2 linked regions of the Homo sapiens genome follow. The protein of the gene in region 1 interacts with the protein of each later gene in a pairwise test. Each region holds a gene or a part of one and is shown on either strand. Other genes may lie near its edges.

Region 1 (3,500 bases):
AACCTAAAAGTTGGAAAAAATTAAAATAATAATGAGCCTTGGTAAGCATATACATTAATTTAAAAAATAAGAATATGATTGAAATAGACATACTTTATCAAGGCACAATGTACAATACCACAAGAAAAACATAACATCTTTCAATTAAGTTTATCTTGGGAGAAGAAACAATGAACCTATCTTTGAAAGTAAATATTAGATTTATTTTTAAAATATTTTACCTGATTTAAATAATTTAGGCACTTTTCAAGACACCAAAGGCAACAAATGCAAGATTTCAGCACACATCGTGCACAAGCATTTTCCTGGATGGGGGAAAAATGGAAATAATAAAAAAACCAAAGAATCAAACTGTCACATAGAAGACTTCAAACGTTAGAAAAATAAATAAAAATTTAAAAATCACAATTTATGCTTCAAAGCCTCCATACTTGTCCACTTTCTCCTTAAAACATAATGACTGAATTATTTTTAATAAGTTCAATTAAATATTTATTTAGTCTCTACTGCATATACAGTGAAGTTTATAACACCTGCAAGGAACTTACAATCTAGTAGGAGAAAAAAAATACCAAACACAAAAAAGGTTAGAATCAGAATATAGTATAGATACTAAGTGTTATGAGAGTGGAGAACAAAGAGACAGCATTGTTTGGGAGATGGGAGGAATCAGGAAAGGTTTCTACAAAGGAGTAGAATTTGAGCTAAACTAGTTGAAGTGCATGTTATTCCCACAGTCAAGGAAGGGAAGAAGTTCTAAGGAGGAAGGTATGTGAGTCAACAGAGAGGAAGAGCAGCACAGGATACTTTTAGTTACTAGTGACTGGATGAATTTTGCCAGAGCATATGGAGTGCATGAGTGGGAGACAAGGGAGAAGGGCTGGATTTTGCCTTGTAAAGACTTTGAAGAAAACACAACTTTGTATTTAACATTATTGGGTGCTTTACTACATGCAGAACTGAGGTCTGGAATGTGCCCACAGAAAGTACAGAAATGCATTTTCCCCTTACCTTTCCTTTGAGCTGACTGTGAATATACATAAGGATCATTCGCGGAATTTTGACTAATGTGATAATGAAAGATCCTTTTGCCACCGTACCTAGGTGGTAACGAATAAGGCGATTTACTGATGCCAAAATAGGTGTAAATGGCAAATTCCTTTTATCCCTATTTAAAAAATGACCAAAAAGACAATTAAAACAAAGCCTAGATCAGGATGGAAACACAGGTATGGTTTAGAGTCCAACGCAGTGAAAAAAAAAATCAGCTCATCATTCTTATTTTAGCTTTATGACAAAATGGCCAAGTGATATATAACTATTACAAATGCTACAGACATGCTATATAAAATTAATGTCATTGCTCTATGGTAGTTTCATGGGGTTCTGATGCTCTAATACTTCAAGTTAAATAAAACTGTGCTCTGAAAGCTTTTATTAGTGAATACTTATGGGGTCATCAGAAAACAGAATTTAAAAAGATGTTAAATTTAGACTTGGCATCTAATTATAATAGAAAATTATGAGACCTAAAGCTTTCATATTTGGCTCTAAAGTTAGCAAAGGGAACTCACACTTGTTCCGGTCTAAACAAACTAAAAAGACTTGTTGTCCTTTGATGGACTTTTATATAAAGCAAAAGTACATATGGCACCACTATAAGATTTATTCTTCTGCTAAATACAATTTGTGACATCGCAATAAATTTTATGAGACAACTGCAGAAAAGTATAAAGAATAAAACAACAATCTCTCATTTGACCACCTCCCAGAATTATCAACTATATATAACACTCTGTCATATTCATTTCTAATTCTTTTGTTAAAGAAATGAAACTCCTGCCAGCCCCAGTCTGATTCCCTTCCCCTCCAGCCTGCGGACACCATCCCTTAGATGAACTCGAGTTTTCTAATAACAACATATTCTTACCTAGTAAAATAGTATGTTACCACAGCTCCTGCCACTGTCATCTGCTGACATGCTAGAATAAATTCACTGATCCAAATCAGGCCCACCACATGGTACCACCACATGTACTGCAGAGGCCCAGAAATTTTGAACTCCACAAAGCCTTGCTCATTCTGAACAGGACTGCCTAGGAAAATATCAAGGAAGGAAAGAAGAAGCACATAAAGTACAAATCCAGAAATACGGCAGTTAAGTAGAAGGCAATAGGTCCCTACCCCAAGCCACAAACCTTCTGATCTGTGTGGTATTTCATAAAGGGACAAAAATAACTATCACTTGAAAAGTTGTGAAATTAAGAATTGTACTATTATGCATTTTGATGTCCTCAAAGGCATCATATAAAGCTTTTAAAAGTTGTTATATTTAATAAAACTCTTCTTATATTATCAATTATTTAAGCATGAATTTTCAAACACTTCAGTTTTTTTCAAGGCCTATTATTTATCCAATCATTACAGATTTCTTAGCAAAGTACAGAAATTATTATTATATTCAGTTGCTAAGTGTGTGTGCTGAATGGACAGATAAGTTACATAGTTACATAAAAGTTTACTATCCTTATGATACTCTTTACAATTAGTTCCATTTAAGCTTAACCTTTGATACTCAGTACGGCTGTAAGAAAGTCTGAGTGTCTAACTATGAACTATATCATCAGTTGGAGCTCTAGCTAGGGTCAGATCATTTCGAAACCAGAAAATCCCAAGGAAGTAAGTAGATCCTTGGCTATACCTGGGATTTGAGGTAACTCCTGAGTGACATTGCATTCACTGGTTCATCTTAGAATGAATCTAAATGTCTGAGTCAGTATTGGAACTTACTTCAAATTCATGATCATTTCAAAATTAGAGTGCAATTTCAGGCCTTCCCTGATCTAGACTTACATTGCTAGGATGTTCTAAAAAATCATGAATATGGGCTGGGCACGCTGGCTCACGCCTGTAATCCCAGCACTTTGGGAGGCCGAGGTGGATGGATCACATGAGGCCAGGAGTTGGAGAGCAGCCTGGGCAACATGGAGAAACCCTGTCTCTACTAAAGATACAAAAATTAGCCAGGCATGGTGGTGCATACCTGTAGTGCCAGCTGCTCGGGAGGCTGAGGCAGGAGAATCGCTTAAACCTGGGAGGCTGAGGTTGCAGTGAGCTGAGATCACACCACTGCACTCCAGTTTGTGTGACAGAGAGACACTCTGTCTCAAAAAAAATAAAAGGCCAGGTGCGGTGGCTCACGCCTATAATCCCAACACTTTGGGAGGCCAAGGCAGGCGTCCTGACCTGATCATGAGGTCAGGAGTTCGAGACCAGCCTGGCCAATATGGTGAAACCCTGTCTCTACTAAAAATACAAAAATTAGCCAGGCATGGTGGCATGTGCCTGTAGTCCCAGCTACTCAGGAGGCTGAGGCAGAAGAATCACTTGAACCCGGGAGGCGGAGGTTGCAGTGAGCCAAGAGAGCACCACTTCACTCCAGCCTGGGTGACAGAGCAAGACTCTGTCTCAAAAAAAAAAGACGAATATGAAGTAGGTTG
Region 2 (3,194 bases), on another chromosome or scaffold:
TGAGCCATGACCATGATCATGCTGCTGAACTCCAGCTTGGGTGACAGAGCAGGACCCCATCTCGGGGCGGCAGAGGGGGTGGTGGGAACCAGGAGCCAGCACTTACTGATCACTTATCTATGCACTAAGCTTTTTGTTCATTTTACCTAAGTCTCACAATAACTAACTATGCAAAGGGGGTTACTGTTACTATCCTCATTTTACTTACCCAGAAAGGAGACCCAGAGAGATCAACTTATGCTCAAGGTCACCGAGTTTAGCCCTGTGGTAGAGTTGGGATGTCACAACCTAGAGCACAGAATCTTGTCCATGGCTGTGGATTTAGTAAGTGAAGTTCAGGGAATTTGTGCCTGAAGGTCTCTATTTTTATGTAAGATAGAAGGCAAGGACATGTTAAGAGTGAAGGAAAAAAAGAGGGTAACAAGTTTCAGAGTATAAGTTTTACATAGTAAGAATGGAGAACCGACTAGAGAAAATAAGGGTAATGGGCAGTGCTGAGGTCAGTTAAAACCAATTTTTACTAATACGGATTTATACATTTGGTGATCTTTCTCCAGAAATAACTGGTGAGGGTAGGAGGGCTTGGATACATCTAGGGCTGGGAATTTTCCAGGAAGTCGTTTGGGTTAACAATCATGATACTGAATTGATAGATCAGGAAGCCTAGATAGGACTTACAGAGGTGGAAACAGACTACGCCCTAACACAGAGCAGGTATAAAGGAGGAGGAGTTGGTTAGAAGTGAATACTTTTATTGAGTGATTTTAGAAGTTGTTTTCGGATATTCCAAGTATTTAGGATGTGGCTGTGGTGGAAACAAGTAATGGAACCAAAGCCCTGTGTGTAAGTAGTCACTGAAGCTAACCAGGTAGCTGAAATTTATTTCCCCCAAATTTACTGAAAGAATGTGACCTTTGTGCTCTCAAACTGTGGTTCAGGCACTCCAGAATTTTTTTCTGTACCTTCAATTCTCTCAGATTTAAAAAATTATACTAGAGAAGAGGACTTTTGCCTATGAATACAAACAACATTGCAATCTGCATCTGCAAACATTCTTTTCAATAGACGGTTAGGTCATGGATACAAGTAAACACTTGGATATAAGGCAAACATTTAAAAGTGCATTTCAGGTATTAAGTCATGAATGATATGGAAAAGTTGCCACTAAACTTTCCACTGAATAGTGTTTCACAGCACAAAAATAATCTATTTTCCTGATACTTTTTTAGTATGGATACCAAGACAGCATGACATCAGTTGTCTAATTTTTTTCCAATTTGATTTAAAAAACCCACATGTTCAGGCTTAAAAGATAGCATTATGTTTAATGGGTGCTAGGAAACCAGGCCACATGGACCAACAGACCTAAATTTACTCTAACCCTGAATTTTGTTAGCACCCAATAAATGAATTAATTGAAATCTGGATTTCTCTATACGGAGATGAAGAAAGTCTTTTAGTGTAGTTATTTTAAAACAAGTTGCTCCTATTTCCTTATCAGAAACAAGACCATATCAACAACCCAACATTTAAATAATGAACTGAAAATACTTTTAAAAACCATAAAACTCATCTCTATCCCATTCTTAAGTAAAAATCAGTCTTCACTTTCTACTTAGTTATAAGCAATCCCACAGACATTTGAAAATCAGTGGGCAAACTAAAATTGTTGAATAAAGCCAAACTTTTTCAAACCAAGTATTTGTTAAATGTCATATGTATTGTCTACTATAAAGTGATTCAATATTTTACTATAGAGGATAGCATCTATTTTTCAAAAATGTGAGAAATTAAAAAAATAACAAGGCAACAACTTTGGGGTCTGATACATGAAATAAATATACTGCAAGATAGAGTCTATCAACCAGAAATCACCTGTTCTACTTGTTAAATTTCTCTAACACATTCTAAATTTTTTTTTTTTTTTTTTTTGAGATGGAGTTTTGCTCTTGTTGCCCAGGCTGGAGTGCAATGGGGTGATCTTGGCTCACTGCAACCTCCGCTTCCTGGGTTCAAGTGATTCTCCTGCCTCAGCCTCCTGAGTAGCTGGGATTACAGGCATGCACCACCACGCCCAGCTAATTTTGTATTTTTAGTAGAGATGGGGTTTCTCCATGTTGGTCAGGCTGGTCTCAAACTCCTGACTTCAGGTGATCCAGCCACCTCGGCCTCCCAAAGTGCTGGGATTATAGGTGTGAGCCACCGCACATGGCAACACGTTCTACATTTCAAAGTGACATAAGAATAATTTTTAAAAATTCCAACACTCCAAGGCTGGGCGTGGTGGCTCACGCCTGTAATCCCAGCACTTTGGGAGGCCAAGGTGGGTGGATCACGAGGTCAGGAGATCGAGACGATCCTGGCTAACACCGTGAAACCCCAACTCTACTAAAAATACAAAAAATTAGCCAGGAGTAGTGGCACATGACTGTAGTCCCAACTACTTGGGAGGCTGAGGCAGGAGAATCGCTTGAACCTGGGAGGCAGAGGTTGCAGTTAGCTGAGATCGCGCCACTGCACTCCAGCCTGGGCGACAGAATGAGACTCCGTCTCAAAAAAAAAAAAAAAAAAAAAAAATCCAACACTCCAAATACATCCTTTAAGTATGTAGATGTATAATAGCTCAGCTCACAAACAGGTGTGACTAAAGCCTTTGAACTTGTTACTTATAAACATTAAGAATTTGGACCCCATTATCCAAAGATCCATTTACTAGCTCATAATGCAATTTGTGTTAATCAGCTATACAAATCAACCACCTAATAGCAGTCAGATGATTCTAATCTCACACCAACAGAAACAGCAATAAAATTAGAAAGTAATACTTTTTAGTAATTAATCAATAAAATAGCACTGGGATAAAATGAAGAGAATTTCTTGTTTCAGCTTCTTATCAGTAAGCCTGTTCCTCATTTGTAGATAATGAGGATAAAGGTATCACAGCCAAATATGGGAAACTGCTCTTTATTTAGACCTTTGGGACAAAATTAACTTTGGTCACATATTACTTAAAAAAAAATCCAGTTTTACATATTTCTAAATAGACAGAACTAAATGATCAGAGAATTTCTTCTGTAAAAATTGGCCAAATTTTATCAAAAATCTAACATACGATACAATCCAAATTATAAAAAGACTACTTGGGATCATAATATTCCAAATGTATGACAGTTATAACTCCATCTTAACAAGTG

Evidence for each region. Proteins that work in one complex are often made in the same cells at the same time.
Region 2: the proteins of SLC44A1 (region 1) and C11orf58 interact in a two-hybrid assay, tested with the Homo sapiens proteins (one large-scale study listed by BioGRID and IntAct).

Annotation. Positions count from the first base shown.
Region 1 is NC_000009.12:105,363,151-105,366,650, reverse strand, and holds part of SLC44A1 (choline transporter-like protein 1), read right to left. Parts: intron 2,097-3,500; coding exon 1,931-2,096; intron 1,169-1,930; coding exon 1,012-1,168; intron 306-1,011; coding exon 222-305; intron 1-221.
Region 2 is NC_000011.10:16,755,647-16,758,840, reverse strand, and holds the end of C11orf58 (small acidic protein), read right to left. Parts: 3' UTR 501-3,194; downstream 1-500.